Linked DNA regions of Homo sapiens: region 2 is linked to region 1. A link means that fine-mapping ties the variant in region 1 to the expression of a gene that starts in the linked region. Tissue or cell type: whole blood. Region 1 holds a variant in brackets; the other region holds the start of a gene. All regions are shown on one strand. Distances are between the middles of the regions.

Region 1 (8,085 bases):
AAGGACTGGAGTGTGGACGTGTCAGAAGTTCCTGTGTGCACCCATGATGGGGGCCCTCCTGGCCCCTACTTGCTGCTCTGGTCCCTCAGAGGTCTCTGCCGCTGTGACAGGACCCTGAGCAGGGTAGGAAGTTCACCAGGAAAATTGGAAGCTACTTTTTCTCTGCCAGTTCAGCCAAGGTCTTGATGTCAGAAACACTGCTGAGTGGTTAAAAACAAGTGGTGGGAGGCGGTGGCTTACACCTGCAATCCCAGCACTTTGGGAGGCCGAAGCGGGCAGATCACTTGAGGTCAGGAGTTTGAGACCAGCCTGGCCAACATAGTGAAAGCTCGTCTCTACTAAAAATACAAAAATTAGCTGGGTGTGGTGGTGCACACTTGTAATTCCAGCTACTTGAGAGGCTGAGGCAGGAGGATCACTTGAACCCAGGAGGCGGAGGTTACAGTGAGCTGAGATTGTGCCACTGCACTCCAGCCTAGGCAACAGAGTAAGACTCCATCTCAAAAAAAAAAAAAAAAGTGATTTTTCTTGCACACCTGAGTCAGTGCCCTGAGCTTCTTACACTTTACACAACAGTTATTAGGGATACCCTCCCCCAGTGACATCTGAGGGCAGCTGCGGAGGGCAGAGTCTTCCCCACAGCAGAGCCGGAGCACCCCTTCTGGGAAGGCTCAGCTTTGGGGAGGAAGGGCTTCCCTTTCCAAGCAGGCCAGGGACTCCCCACACACATCCCAGGCTGCGTCTGCCCTGGAGATGAAGTCACAAGCCAGCCTCAGGGTTACCTCCGGGCTCCAGTCCCCCCAGCCTAGTCCTGCGGTGCTTCTCCCCACAGCCCTTCTTTCCCCACTCACAGGCAAAGCAAGATCCCTGGAGATTCCAGTTCCCGCCTGGCCCTGGTTCTGTCACCGCTCCCCTGACAGCCCCTACATGCCCACAGCGTCAACCAGCACATCACTTCACGGCCAGCGGCCGCCCCGTGCCTGCCCGCGGCTCCCCTCTGCAGCCTCCAGGCCGGCCCCACCCAGTGCGGAGAGTCAGGCCTTCCTGGCCGGGTCTGAATCCCGCATCCCCCGGCTACAATACAGTCCCAGTAGGCAACAGGGTCCCCGTGGAGGGGAATCAACTGAAGAACGAAGTGTTTACTTCAGAGCTTCTACCACGGCGCTGTGTGCTTCCCTCAGAGAGCGACACACTCACACACACTCTCACACTCACGCTCACACACTCACACCCACATACACACACACGCTCACACCCGCACACGTTCACACGCTCACACCCACACACACGTTCAAACCCACACACTCACACGCGTTCACACCCACACACGTCCACACGCTCACACCCACACTCACACGCTCACACCCACGCGTTGACATGCTCACACACACACCCACACACACACGCTCACACCCACACACATGCTCACACATGTGCACTCACACTCAAACTGACACAGCCACACTGACACACACTAACACACATACATACACTCAACACATTGACACATTTACACACATACATACACTGACACACACTGACACATTCTTACACACATTCACACACTCATGCACACACACTGTCACATGCTTACAATCACAACATACTCAGGCTTTGTTCACACTCACACTTATATGTCCACACTGTCACACATGTTCACACATACACTCAAATCACACAAAACACACAGGCTTTGTTCACATACATTCATACACATTCACACTTACACATGCAAACACAATCCTCACAGCACACACCTGCATACACACCCACACACTTGTGCTTACACACACCCACACTCATCCACATTCTCACACTCACGTGCTCACATACACACTCCCATACACCCACACACTCGTGCACTCATGAGTTCGCACTCACATGCTCCCTAGCATCCTCATATTCACTCACACGTCTTCACACGCTCACATAGACACACAGGTGCTCACACACAATCTCACACTGACACACTTATTTACTCACATACGCACACATTCACATACACAAGAGTGTGCTCCCACGCCCATCCTGGCCGCTCCCAGGCAGCTACTGACACACGCCAGGTCGGTGGCGATTCACACTCCGTGCTGAGAGGTATTCAGAGGGTGGGGCGCCATCTGGTCCTCACTTTTCGTGGGGGCGGGGGTAGTGTTCAGAACACTTGGCTCTGGCTGATGCCGGAAGGGAAAGGCCGGTGGCCCAGGGAAGGGGGACCGGGAGCGAGGGAAGAGCATCGCTCTCTCTTTCCTGGACATGGGTCCCTTCCTGAGCAAGCCTGAACTGGCCTCAATTTTCCTGGGTTCTCTTAATAATTTTTTGGTAAACTGCCTTTTGTGGGGGAATCCCAGCGCGCCACGCACTTTGCCAAGCGTTTGGCCGTGCACCCGTCGGCAATTCCAGTGGCTGTTGTTCCATCCGCACTTCACTCTAGAGGCCACGGAGACTCAAGCCCAAGTGGTTTTGGTCACGACTGCACAGCTGGGAGAAGAGCCCTGGTATGAAGCCACTCGGCGGCTCAGTTCATGGTTCTGCAAAGCTTCCCCGACGCCCAGCTCTCCTGCCCTCAAGCATGCCCACTCCCTGGGGACCCTTCAGCACATCCCTGGAATCACTCTCTCCCTCCCCCATGCAGACTGTGTCCCCAGCCCATTCCCGCAGAGACAAAGGTCAGATCCACCACTTCTGTCCCTCGTCCCCTACTCATGGTCCACAACACCCTCCACCACCATCACGGGCCCAGCGGGCGACTGCAGGGCAGGAAAGGGAGAGCCTCCGCTCCTGCATCAGCCTCCAGGAGCTCCGCCAAGAAAAATGAGGGCAAGGACACACTCCGCTGGCGAGGCCTGCTATTTCATTTTAAAGGAGACAGTGCTTCCTGGATCTTGCTCGTGCTGCTGCAAGTCATATAAAATGATAGGATCTTTCTGAAGGGCAGTGTGATCACATATATCAAAGACCTTTAAAACGTGCATGCAGCGGCACATCCTTTAGCCTATTAACTTCACTTCTAGGAAACGTATCCTAAGGAAATATTTGGACAGGTGAGCAAAGACGTAGGTACAAGGATGTTCACTGCAGCACTGTTTAAAATAGCAAGGAGCTGTAGCCAAAAATAGAAACAATCTAAATAAATCATTGCATACCCATATAATGAAGCACCCTACAGCTACAAAGAATAATTGTAAAATATAGTCATTGACATAGAAAGATATTCACAATCTATTTTTGACTTTAGACAGGCTATAATAACCTATTTACATTTTGATGCCATTTTAACTAAAAATCTGTATCAATAAAGAAAATTCTAGGCCGGGCATGGTGGCTCACACCTGTAATCCCAAAACTTTGGGAGTCCGAGGTGGGAGGCTTGCTTGAGCCCAGGAGTTCGAGACCAGCCTGGACAACATAGTGAGACTCCATCTCTACAAAAAACAACAACAAAATCAAAAAATGAGGTGTGAGAATTGCTTCAGCCCAGGAGGTTGAAGCTGCAATGAACTATGATCATGTCACTGCACTCCCGCCTGGGTGACAGAGTGAGACCCTGCCTCAAAAAGAAAAAAAACAAAGAAAAACTTAGAAGTGAATGCATCAGACCAGGCGAAGTGGCTCATGCCTGTAAGTGGCACTTTGGGAGGCCAACACGGGTGGATCACCTGAGGTCAGGAGTTCGAGACCAGCCTGGCCAACGTGGTAAAACCCCGTCTCTACTAATAATACAAAAATTAGCCTGGTGGGATGTTGCGCACCTGTAATCCCAGCTACCTGGGAGGCTGAGACAGGAGAATCACTCGAACTTAGGAGTGGGAGGTTGCAGTGAGCTGAGATACCGCCACTGTACTCCAGCCTGGGTGTCACAGCAAGAATCTGTCTCAAAAAAAAAAAAAAAAAAAAAGAATTGAATGCATCAAAATATTAACTAACACAGTTTATCTATGGAGAGTAATGCCACGAGTGATTTTTTGAAATCTCCTTTGCATTTACTGATTTTTTCTTTTTTTTTTTTTTTGAGACGGAGTCTCGCTCTGTTGCCCAGGTTAGAGTGCAGTGGCGCAATCTCTGCTCACTGCAAGCTCCGCCTCCCAGGTTCACGCCATTCTCCTGCCTCAACCTCCTGAGTAGCTGGGACTACAGGAGCCCGCCACCACACCCAGCTAATTTTTTGTATTTTTAGTAGAGACAGGGTTTCACCGTGTTTGCCAGGATGATCTCGATCTCCTGACCTCTTGATCCGCCCACCTCGGCCTCCCAAAGTGCTGGGATTACAGGCGTGAGCCATCGTGCCCAGCCTCTTACTGATTTTTTCTAAAATTAACATTTAATTAATATGAATTTTTACTTATACATGCATATTATTATATAGTTGTTCGACTACACATAAATATTCCTGGAAAACTACACAAGAACACATTAGCTTCCTCTGGCAACAACAGAAGGTACGTGGCAGAGGGTCAGCATGTGGAAGAACATTTTTCACTATGTACTTTTATGGATCCTTTGAATTTTGAATCATATGAATTATATATATATATATTTTTTTTTTTT[G/TTG]AGACAAGCTCTCATCTCACTATGGTGTCCAGGTTAGTCTGGAACTCCTGAGCTCAAGGGATTCTCCCTCCTTGGCCTCCCACAGTGCTGGGATTATAGGAGAGAGCCACCCCACTCGGCCAAATTTATCGTCTTTCACAAATACAAATAGAAACTAAATTTAAGTTTTAAAACAAAATAAAAGATTTTTTTTTTTTTGAGATGGAATCTCGCTCTGTCGCCCAGGCTGGAGTGCAGTGGCGCCATCTCAGCTCACTGCAACCTCCACCTCCCGGGTTCAAGCGACTCCCCTCCCTCAGCCTCCCAGGTAGCTGGGATTACAGGCCTGCGCCACCACACCCGGCTAATTTTTATATTTTTAGTAGAGACGGGGTTTTGCCATGGCTGGGTTGGTCTCGAACTCCTGACCTCAAGTGATCTACCCGCCTCGGCCTCCCCAAGTGATGGAATTACAGGGATGAGCCACCGCACCTGGCCAAAAATAAAAGATTTAAGGGGTATCTTTGACATTTCACAAAGCCCATTTTTGTGCAGCAGTGACCGTGGAAGGAGACTGTTTATATCAGAGTCACAAACTCAAATGCCTAGAGGGCCAGAGGGATGAATGCAGGACAGAGCTGGTGTAACCACAGGGAGTGGTGGGGACTGCGGCAACCTGGAAAGCAGAGGCCCTGTCTGTGGCGGCAGCGTGATTCTGCTCCAGCTGATTAGACCATGCAGGAAGACTGCCCCAGGGCCAGCCCTTCCAGCTCATCAGCAAAAGCCTCACATCTAGGATTCCATATGCTTTTCCTCATTTTACAGCGTGTGCTTAGGCCAGGTGCGGTGGCTAATGCGTGCAGTCCCAACACTTTGGGAAGCAGATCACTTGAGCTCAGGAGTTCAAGACCTGCCTGGGCAACTTGGCGAAACCCCATCTCTACAAAAATACAAAAATTAGCCAGGCATGGTGGCGCATGCCTGTAATCCCAGCTACTTGGGTGGCTGAGGTGGGAGGATCACTTGGGCCCAGAAGGTTGAGGCTGTAGTGAGCCGAGATTGCACCACTACACTCAAGGGTAGGCGACAGAATAAAACACTGTCTCAAAAAAAAAAAAAAAAAGTGCTGGCCCCAAAAATGAGTTTCTATAGGCCAGGCACAGGCCAGTTTGCAATCTCTACGTTCATATGGAATATTTTTGTTTACACTCCCAAAGTACCTTAGGGAGAAGTAACTTGCTTAGAGTCAAACAGTGACTCTAGAACTTTGAGATGGAGTCTCGCCCTGTCGCCCAGGCTGGAGTGCAGTGGCACCATCTCAGCTCACCACAACCTCCGCCTGCCGGGTTCAAGCGATTCTCTTGCCTCAGCCTCCCTAGGAGCTGGGATTACATGCATGGGATTACAAAATGCCTGGCTATTTTTTGTATTTTTAGTAGAGACAGGGTTTCACCATGTTGGCCAGGCTGGTCTCGAACTCCTGACCTCAGATGATCCGCCCACCTCGGTTTCCTAAAGTGCTGGGATTACAGGCGCGAGCTGCTGTGCCCGGCCAGAACTTTAGTTCTAACAGTAGTTATTAATAGTTAACAGCAGGCCAGGAGCGGTGTCTCACGCCTGTAATCCCACCACTTTGGGAAGCCAAGGCCGGAGGATGACCTGAGGTCAGGAGTTCGAGACCAGCCTGACCAACATGGAGAAACCCCGTCTCTACTAAAAATACAAAATTAGCCGGGCATGGAGACGCATGCCTGTAATCCCAGCTACTCGAGAGGCTGAGGCAGGAGAATTGATTCAACCCAGGAGGCAGAGGTTGCGGTGAGCTAAGATCACACCACTACACTCCAGCCTGGGCAACCAGAGCAAAACTCCGTCTCCAAAAAAAAAAAAAAAAAGTTAACAGCGACTTGGAGGGAGCCAGAGGTTTACAGGGCTGTCGGACCCTCTTGGGGCGCCAACATTTTATCAGAGCAGGAAGCCCAAGCCTGTTCACTGAGGACATTTGAAGAGTGGAAACAGAAGCCCAGTGTAGGAGGGTGACCTCTCCTGGCTCCCCTGGAAGAGCCAGCCTCCATGTTAGGTAAGGCTAGTCAGCAGCCAAAGTCAAGGTATAGAAGCAGGGGGCCAGACCTAAGACCTTGAGCATTGGCCTCTGGCCTCCCTACTTCCCTGCCTGTGCCCACCGTGTCCCCTTCCACTCTGCCGCTTTACACCCTGGCCAGCCTGCAGCTCAATCACATCTATCTCCCACCCGCAGGCTCCTTGACCACACAGAGAAGAGGCAGGATTCAAACCAAGGCTGGCTCATTCCTCTAAGTCCCTGCTCTTTCCACCCAGCATCCTCCCTTCTCTGGGTTACTGCATCCTCTGAACCGTTTCTTCACCCCTGAAATGAGGCTAAGTACTCCGGAGGCTGAAGCAGAAGGATCGCTTGAGCCCAAGAGTTTGAGGCTGCAGTGAGCTACGATGGCACCACTGCACTCCAGCCTGGGCAACAGAGCAAGACCCCATCTCTAAAAGCTAAATTAGGCCAGGTGCAGCGGCTCACACCTGTAATCCCAGCACTTTGGGAGGCCGAGGCGGGCGGATCACCTGAGGTCAGGAGTTCGAGACCAGCCTGCCCAACATGGTGAAACCTCTTCTCTACTAAAAATACAAAATTAGCCGGGTGTGGTGGCAGGCGCCTGTAATCCCAGCTACTCGGGAGGCTGAGGCAGGAGAATCACTGGAACCCAGGAGGCAGAGGTTGCAGTGAGCTGAGATCGCACCCCTGCACTCCAGCCTTGGACAACAGAGCCAGACTCCGTCTCAAAAAAAAAAAAATCTCTTTTTAAAATAAAAGTTAAATTAATTAATTAATAGGAAGAAATGAGGCTAAGGATACCTCTTTCATAGGGTGGCTGTGAGTTACATGGAATGAGAGGTGAAGAAATTGAAGATGAGAGACTATTTTGCATCCACTCAATTAGAAAAGGTTTTGAAATGGTAATACTCAGTGCTTGTGAGTATCTGATGAAATGGGACCCTTTCATCTCCTTCAATGAGATTCCCGCCTAGAGTGCTCAGGAGGGTCCCTACACATTGGAAAAGGTCAGTAAATCTCAATAAATTCCTGGTGACTGAGTGACCATACTCTTAAATCTGTTAATTCTCTAGTTCCTCTTTTCGACAAATAGGGGAGGTTGGGGCTGTTAGGTGACTTGCTAAAGTCACACAGCTGGTAACACAGGAGTCAGAATTAGAGCCTCAGAATTTCTTCCCTTCTCCTGAGGGCCCCTTGTCCTGGGCCCCTTCCTGTTCTTTCAGACCACCAGGATGGGACACAGCTGGCGCCCGCATACCCTTTCCACTCCCCCGGAGCCCCACCTGCCCACAAGGACTGCCTGATTCGCCTCACCTGGGCACCTCTGGGTCCCAGCCCAGATCCCCAGGCCTCCCGGGGACAGGAGGGGAAGGTCCACATGAGATGGTCTCACAGGGTAGCCACAGGGAGAGAAACGATGGGGAGGCGGCCCAGGGTGGGGTTCAGGCAGACCCTGGGGCGGGAGCTGTCAGGACATC
Region 2 (8,083 bases), 140 kb after region 1:
ACTGTGGGTTGGGTTGAGGGGAGCCTGCCGCCCAAACCAGGCCCACCAGCCCCAGACTTGCGGTGCTTCCCTTTCAGGGAGGTGGGAGTGAAGTTAAGACAGGGCAGGTGCTGAGGCTTTAGATTCAAGCTGCAGGGAACAAAAAGCAGCAGATGCTGAAAGCGCTGCCTGGCAGGAAGAACAAGTGTTCTTTTCTATTACGTAAAGATAGTCTCAAACTTCTCTGGGGCCCGAGGACGCCAACCACAGCAATCTTCTGTTCCCTCTATGTGCACATGTGGAAACTGCTGCTCAGAGAGGCAGGGGTAGTGACAAGCAAGGTCACTCAGTAGATCTGGGTCCTACCCCAAGCTCTCTGGCCACAGAAGGCTGTCTCCTTCTAGAAAAGAACCCTGGTGAAGAGCAGGAGGGCAGGCAGTCTGTATTGACTGGGCTATCCCTGACTCCCATGCGTGGCAATAACTTGAAAGTGATGAATACATAATTCTGGCCCTGCCTGGGATCTGCTGTGGGGCCTTAGTCCTCATTTCCTCCATCTGCACAATGAGGGAGCAAGACAAGCTCTGGATTTAGTGATGCAGACATTCATGCCCAAACCAGCCAGCCTGGACAGTGACAAACAGTGACACAGGCAGGGACAGCTCCTTCCATCTCTTTTATCAGGGTTGGGGGTCACAGTTCTTGTACCAAAGCCCAAATCCCATTATGCAGAGGTTTGGGTCTTCTTAGTGAGGGGAGGAAGAGCCAGTTGTAAGATGCTTACTTGCACAGAGTGGTTAGAAACTGAGACAGTACTCCATTCTCCCCTGAGCTGGTATGTGACCCCTCTTGCTGCCTCCCAGTCTCCTCTTCCAACTCTGTCCTGTTTGATGATGGCCTCAGGGAGACAAGGGATGGCAGAAGAGCCCTCTGAGAGGCCCAGGTCCTAGAGCAGCTTCTGCCTGGGCTGAGGTCTTGGGGGCTTGGCTGTTTTTTACCAGGCTCCTCTTTGTTCCCCCACTGGGATATAGCCTCTGAGGCAAGTCACCCTGCTGAGTCTGAAAAGCCATGTGTCACCTTCGCAGCTTCCGGCACCTGAGGAGGGAGGAAGTGATCTGTTCATGCTGGCTGGAGCGCAGCCCCAGCCCTGGACTCATGTGTGCCTCGGGCCCACTAAGATCACAACCTGAGCATCCTGCCACACCACTCGGCCCTGGGCACTGGAGGCTGCAGGGCGAAGGATGAACCTTTTGCAAAGGTCATCCCCTCCTGACACTCCTCGGGAGCCCCCACTGGCCCTGCCCATATGATTTCACCCCATGGCCTCACTGCGGGACACGGATGGTGAGAAACACATCAGGTAAGGGTGGACAAGGGTTCCACTATGTCCCCTGGCCTCTTGAAGCCCGTAGGTAAGGGCAGATGTCTACCACAGGGGCTTCTGGGAAGGCCCGAACTGCAAGCTGGAAAAGCTGTGTCCTACATTTCTACTCCGGGCAGATGTCACCTCCTCCAAGAGATCTCTGACCTCTGAAAGACGAGGCCAGGTACCCCTCACCACAGCCCTTGACATCCTCTGCTGGCATTGTCCCTCCTGTATCTGACTCCTGAGTTAGAATGTTGGACTTGCTTATACAGCTCCAGGTGCCAGCAGCTGTTTGGTAAATATTTGTTCAACACATTCAACAGTTTCCCCTTCCCTGGCCCTCCTCCTACTGGCAGGCTCACCCTGGACCTGCTCCAGGACAGGGCCTTGGTGCCTTCCCAAACAAACACCACCCCACAGACGCCTCACCTGCAGGTGTCTGGGTTGAGCTCTAAGCCCCGCCCTTGGCAACGGAGGAAGCTGCGGCGTCGGCAGCGGCAGCGGCAGGTCCGGGGGTCAGGGCGCTGGTGGTGCTGGGTGCAGCGTGGGCAGAGGGGCCTGGGGCTGGAGTGGGATGGGTGATGTCAGCTGGGGAGGGTGCTCCGGGGGCAGAGTCCCAGCCCGGAACAGAACGGGGCTGGGGACGGTGGTGGGGAGTGGCAGCCCTAGGGAGGAGAAGCGACATGTCTGGGGTGGGAAGGAAGAGTCTTCCCTAGAGCTGGGGTCGGGGCAGAGAACACAGGCTTGGGGAGCAGAGGAAAAGGGAAAGTGGGGGACGGGTGGGAGGAGAAAGAGGAGCAACAGCTTCTGGACTCACTTGTACTCCCCATACCCCTACTCAGCTGGAGTCCAAAAGACTCACCTGTCTGGCTTCACAGCACTGTCCTTTTTTTTAGGTCTGAAAAGTAAGATAGACAGACACAGACAAACAAGAGGAAGATCAGGAAATCCCAGCATCCTACTCTCTCTCTCTCTCTCTCTCTCTCTCTCTCTCTCTCTTTGAGACTGTGTTTCCCTCTTCTTGCCCAGGCTGGAGTGCAGTGGCGTGGTCTCGGCTCACTGCAACCTCCGCCTCCCAGGTTCAAGCTATTCTCTTGTCTCAGCCTCCCAAGTAGCTGGGATTACAGGCACCTGCCACCATGCGCGGCTAATTTTTGTATTTTTTTTTAGTAGAGATGGGGTTTCACCATGTTGGCCAGGCTGGTCTCAAACGCCTTACCTCAGGTGATCTGCCTGCCTGGGCCTCCCAAAGTGCTGGGATTATAGGTGTGAGCCACTACCCCCGGCCCAAGCATCCTACTTTGTTGCCCCAGATCCAAGGCCTACCCTTGGCTCTACTCTTTTTTTTTTTTTTTTTTTTTTTTTTTTGTGGCAGAGTCTTGCTCTGTCGCCCAGGCTGGAATGCAGTGGCACGATCTTGGCTCACTGCAAGCTACGCCTCCCAGGTTCATGCCATTCTCCTGCCTCAGCCTCCGGAGTAGCTGGGACTACAGGTGCCCGCCACCACGCCCGGCTAATTTTTTGTATTTTTTTAGTAGAGACAGGTTTTTACCATGTTAGCCAGGATGGTCTCGATCTCCTGACCTCATGATCCGCCCGCCTCGGCCTCCCAAAGTGCTGGGATTACAGGCGTGAGCTACCACGCCCGGCCCCTTGGTTCTACTCTTAGGAACCTGGTCCCCAGTTCTGTGGACCACCATACCCAGCACCCCCCAAGCCTGGCCTCTGCGAGCTCAGAAGTTGGGCCTGGCTGGCACCTGCATTCACACTGGCTGTGTTCTTCCAGGGACATCTCCCCCAGCTGACTGCTCGGGTACCGGATCATGAGGATCTGTGCTCAGGAGAAGAACAGGGGGGACAGTGAGGGAGAGAGAGAAAGGGGATGCTCTAAGACTGAAGGGAGAAAAGCTCACCCAACAGCCGGGAGGCTGGCCACCAGCCCTCCCCCCAACCCTGTCTCCTGTGCATCAGTCTCCAGGCTGCCCCAGCCCCAGAGCCAGCCAGCATCCACCCTGCCCGCTGCCCCACCTGCCCAGTACCTGCATCCCCTGCCCGTTGCCCCACCTGCCCAGTACCTGCATCCGGACTTGGTGCTGCCCAGTGGGCACACACTCCAGGCCATCGTCAGGGCAGCAGCCACCACAGCGCTGCACAGTCACGCAGCTGGGCACCAGCTGTTTGGCCACGGTGCCCATGAGCTCCACAGTCAAGGGCACCACCACCTCCCGGGGCTGGCAGGTAGCGCGAGTATACACATCTATCCATGACACCACTGGGAGCAGACCGGTAGGGGTTAAGTCCTCACTGGTTTTCCTGCAGCTGCTCCCAGCATCTGTCCTCCCCAGTCCCCAAGTCACAGCCACCCTCCACTAGCCCTCCCCACTCTGCCCTCACAACCTGTCTTCCCCTGCCCTGTTTATCCAGATCCCAGTAACCCCACTGCCTCAATTTCCTCCTCTGTGAAATGGGTAGAATAATAGTTTGAATCTTCTAGGGGAGTTACACAAGATGATGGACACCTGGAATCAGGGCCCATGACAAACCCTCTTAGTGCTGGCTAGTGCCGAGTTTTTGTAAGTATTACCTTTCCTCTGGTGGCCAGGGGCATCAGGCTGGGAGACAGGGGCCTGTGGGAGAGAAAAGACCTGTACCCAAGGTACACTTTAGGAGGGTGTGGCCCTGTCACCGTCCCTGGGGCTTTGCCCTTGCATCAGTAGGCTTCACCACCTCTCTGACATCTTTCCAGATTGCTCTGTTCCTGCGGCCACTGCTCTAGCTTTACCTGTCCTCTCCTGGCCACCCGGGACCTGCCCTGGCCCAAAACGCAACAGGTGCTCTGGTGGCCGCGCCAAATCTCCAGGCCGCGGAGCCGAGCATGTTTGGGGGCTGCATGCAGATCAGGAGCGCGCACAGTGCCCACCGAAGCAGGTCCTGCAGGCACCGAGGGAGCCCCGCCCCCGGCGGTGCCCAGGGGACGGGGTGGGGCGGAGGAGTGGCCCCAGACTGGGGCTGGCGGGCCAGCGGGGAGGGGCACCTCCCAGGGGATGCACGCGCCGGGCCCCCGAGACGCCCGCGTCCAAGGCCGGACCCCGCAGATCCCCTCGGCCGAGGCCGCGGGTCGCCTCCTCACTTCCGCCAACCTTGAGAGAGGGCACGGCGGGCGGGCGGGCGCGCTGTCGGGCCGCACGTACCTGGGCGGGGGCCAGCTGCAGGAGTGCGGCGAGCAGCAGGCGGCGGAGCAGAGGGCTCATGGTGCCCGCCGGGGCCGCCCGCCGGGGGCGCCCGCATCGCCCTAGCCCGGCGGCGCGGGGGGCGGCGACAGCCAGAGCCCCATGGCGCGGGCCCGGGCGCGGCGGGCGGGGGCCGGGCGCGGGGGGCGACTCCTCCGCGGCCCCCTCCCGAGCCCTGGGTGCAGGCAGCGCAGCGCAGCGCAGCGGAGGCGGCCGGAGGAGCCGGGCGGGCGGGCGGCCGGTGGCGGCGGGCAGCGGCGGCGGGGACGGCGGGGGCGGCGGGGGGCTGGGCCCGGGCTGGCGGGCAGGCGGCTCATGTGACCCAGACACGCGCTCCCCACCGGCCCGTGGGGCGGGGGCGGGGCGGCGGGGTGGGGGGGCGAGGCCGTCGGCGGGGCCCGCCTCCTCCACACACCCCCTCCCGCCTCCCGCCGCGGCAGGGGAAAGGGGACGCACCGCCCAGGAGGCTGGGCTCCCCAGTCGCCGCCGCCACTACCCGGAGGGCGGGGCGCTGCCCCTTGGCGAGGCCGGGGCCGGGGGCGTCGGGCCTTAAGGAGGGAGCCGGACACGAGCTCTGCGAATCACTTTATTGCGCGCGTTTCGGGGAGCGGGCCGTCCAGGGAAGGAAGCAAAGCGGGAACGCACTGCAGGCCCCATCCAGGTGAGCCCCTCAGGGGCCGGCGCCCCGGGGCACGATCTCGGGGCCTTGGGTTGGCTCGGATGGTGGCGGCTGCCGCTGCCCTAGCCGTTGTCGCTCCTGCTGAAGGATGCCTCTGTTGGCCCTGGAGGAGAGGGCACCTGGGTGGTTGGGATAGGGATCCCGAAGTGTGGTTCCTGGACAGGGAGCAGGGAGCAGAATAGAGCAGGGACAGACCTGGCCCGTGCCCGGGCTTCGTTGTAGAAGGCTGTGATGATCCGATCCTTTTCATCCATGAAGTTAAGGTGCATCTGCTTCACCTTCCTGCAATGGGTCACAATTAACCCTGGGAATCCAATTCCTGCTGTCCCTGAAGTCCTGCCCCCTTCCACCCCACTCTAGGGGCCTCACAGCTTTTTACCCTTACACAGGGTTAGGAACCTCAGTCTAACCCTTCCTGTGATAGATAGGGAGGGCTCAGAGTGGCCCTGGCTTGTCTAGGGTCCAATGGCATCCGAAGTCCCTGGTCACTTTGAGGTGTGACAGCAGCTGTGGACATGGGGGTGCTCCTCCCAGAAGACTAGAAAGGGTATGCGTCTAACTCCATCACTGAACTAGGCAGGCTGCTAGCAGTGGGCACTGGCCTTTAGGTATCTGCTATAGAAAATCGGCTTTGTGGCCAGGCGCGGTAGCTCTCACCTGTAATCCCAGTACTTTGGGAGGCTGAGGCGGGTGGATCACCTGAGGTCAGGAGTTTGAGACCAGCCTGGCCAATATGGTGAAACCCCATCTCTACTAAAAATACAAAACAACTAGCCGGGTGTGGTGGTGGACGCCTGTAGTCCCAGCTACTCGGGAGGCTGAGACAGAAGAATTGCTTGAACCTGGGAGGCAGAGGTGGGGTTGCAGTGAGCCGAGATTGCGCCACTGCACTGCAGCCTGGGCAACAGAGTGAGACTCCATCTCAAAGAAAAAAAAAAGAAAAAAAGAGAATAAAGAGAATCAGCTCCGTGGCACGCGTGAGAGTGGCAGGGAGATGCCTACTGCCAAATGAATGAGCTGTGCTGCATTTGCTGCTTGTGCTTGATTTTGTTTGGCTCAATCCCTTCCTGGCAGCCAGCATGAAAGATTTACATTCGAAATATGAAAAACTGTAAATGACAACGTTAGCTCTTGGTGCAGCGCTGCCTTTAATAAGTAAGGAGAGGCTCCAGAGACCAACTTCAAGCAGCTCTTAGCTTGAGAGACACAAGAGTACGGGCCACGAGGTGCTGTGGAGGACTGGCTGACCACACTGGAATTCACCCACCCTCCTGCCCTCTGCCCATCACCCCGGGGAGAACAGGCATCACCTGAAGGCAATGTAGTGCAGGCCCATGCCCGCCAGCATGAGGAGGAGGCAGTACCCCAGCACTTGTTTGTTTTGTTTGTGTTGCTGCTGCCTCAACTGGGGCCCCTGTGGCCTCACGCTGTGAAACTGGGACCAGTACTGTGCGTTGGGGGGTGTCCAGGAGCTGCTGGGAGGCAGAGGAAGGGACATTGTGGAAATGAGACTACCCAAGAGACCTGGGGGTGGGGCAAGCTGAGGGCAGGATTACTGTACCTGTGTGTTTGGTGGGCAGACTTGTCATGGACTGTGGTTCGTGGAGACTTTGGGGGACTACCTGAGCGGAGCTGGTCATCATAGCTGCGGCGGCTCTGCTCACGGCTGAGCACACGGTATGCCTCGCTCAGCTCCACAAAGCGGCTGTGCAGGCTTGGGTTCCCAGGGTCCCGGTCTGGGTGCAGCTGGGGTGGGGCAGGACTCCCCTTATCTCCCTTTGCCTGTCCCTCCCCAGGACCCATGCTGATGACATCCACCCACCAGGGCTCCAGTCATACCCAGAGGCCCTGCCTGGTCAGTGACCCTCACTCAGGCCTGCCCACTCCTCAGAAGGCCAGAGAGCATGGACTCCTGCTTCCTCCTGTGTTCAAGCCCTCCCCACCTGCCAGCCCCCTGCATTCACCATATGCCCTGGTCCAGGTTTCTCAAGAGCAGGCAGGCAGGTCAAGAAAACCAAGCCCAGCCCATCAGACAGGACCCCTGGCTCCTGCCCACAGCCTTTCCCCTACCATTGAGCACCTGCCACTCCCTATGAGGGCTGAAAAAATGTGGCACCCGCCAGAGATGCTGGTCTACTCCTGGGAATTTGAAGCACACCCCCACTGGCTCAAAGTTCCTGCTCCCCCTCCCCACCTCAGGGGTACGGGTACCTCTTTGGACTTGGAGAAGAAAGCTCGTTTAACTTCCTCAGTGCTGGCACCAGGATGCACCCCCAACAGTTCATAATAAGTACTGGGTCTGGACCTGTGGACAGAGTCCCAAACCTTGCAGGGGCTGAAGGAACCCAGAAGCTAGCTCTGCCCTGCCTTCTGGGCCACACCCTTCAACTCAGCCACCAGGAGCTGACAGGGCTGAAACAGGTCCCAGGACAGATCTGTCTCCAGATCAGCACCCCCTTTGGAGTGTTTCAGGCATAGTGCAGGTCAGGATTTCTCAAAGTGGAGTCCAAAAACTTGTTGGAAAAAACTGATTCCTGGACAGGCGCGGTGGCTCACGCCTGTAATCCAGCATTTTGGGAGGCCGAGGAGGGCGGATCACCTGAGGTCGGGAGTTCAAGACCAGCCTGACTAACATGGAGAAACCCTGTCTCTCCTAAAAATACAAAATTAGCCGGGCGTGGTGGTGCATGCCCGTAATCCCAGCTACTCGGGAGGCTGAGGCAGGAGAATCGCTTGAACCCGGGAGGCGGAGGTTGTGGTGAGCCGAGATTGCTCCATTGCACTCCAGCCTGGGCAACGAGCGAAACTCCATCTCAAAAAAAAAAAAAA

What was found. PIP is the estimated chance that this variant, and not a neighbour inherited with it, causes the effect.
Region 2: it holds the start of VEGFB, and the variant in region 1 is fine-mapped to the expression of VEGFB in whole blood (INTERVAL, PIP above 0.99).

Annotation. Positions count from the first base shown.
Region 1 is chr11:64,373,399-64,381,483 of GRCh38, reverse strand. No RefSeq gene overlaps it. Among named protein-coding and RNA genes, the nearest start is that of MIR1237, 8.8 kb to the right of the region's middle. RefSeq lists enhancers at 1,672-2,289, 7,396-7,949, 7,950-8,085. The variant G/TTG (reference allele first, on the strand shown) is at 4,546.
Region 2 is chr11:64,231,347-64,239,429 of GRCh38, reverse strand. It overlaps VEGFB (vascular endothelial growth factor B), which reads right to left and starts at 4,846. Exons shown (of 7, transcript NM_003377.5): 1 at 4,537-4,846; 2 at 3,930-3,972; 3 at 3,421-3,617; 4 at 3,103-3,176; 5 at 2,208-2,243; 6 at 1,775-2,010; 7 at 166-1,074. The coding sequence starts at 4,596. The coding sequence ends at 1,797. It overlaps DNAJC4 (DnaJ heat shock protein family (Hsp40) member C4), which reads right to left. Exons shown (of 6, transcript NM_005528.4): 2 at 7,466-7,559; 3 at 6,816-7,000; 4 at 6,565-6,726; 5 at 5,450-5,536; 6 at 5,149-5,357. The coding sequence ends at 5,246. It overlaps LOC124902687 (a long non-coding RNA gene), which reads left to right and starts at 8,060. Exons shown (of 2, transcript XR_007062713.1): 1 at 8,060-8,083. RefSeq lists silencers at 4,219-4,588, 4,809-5,298.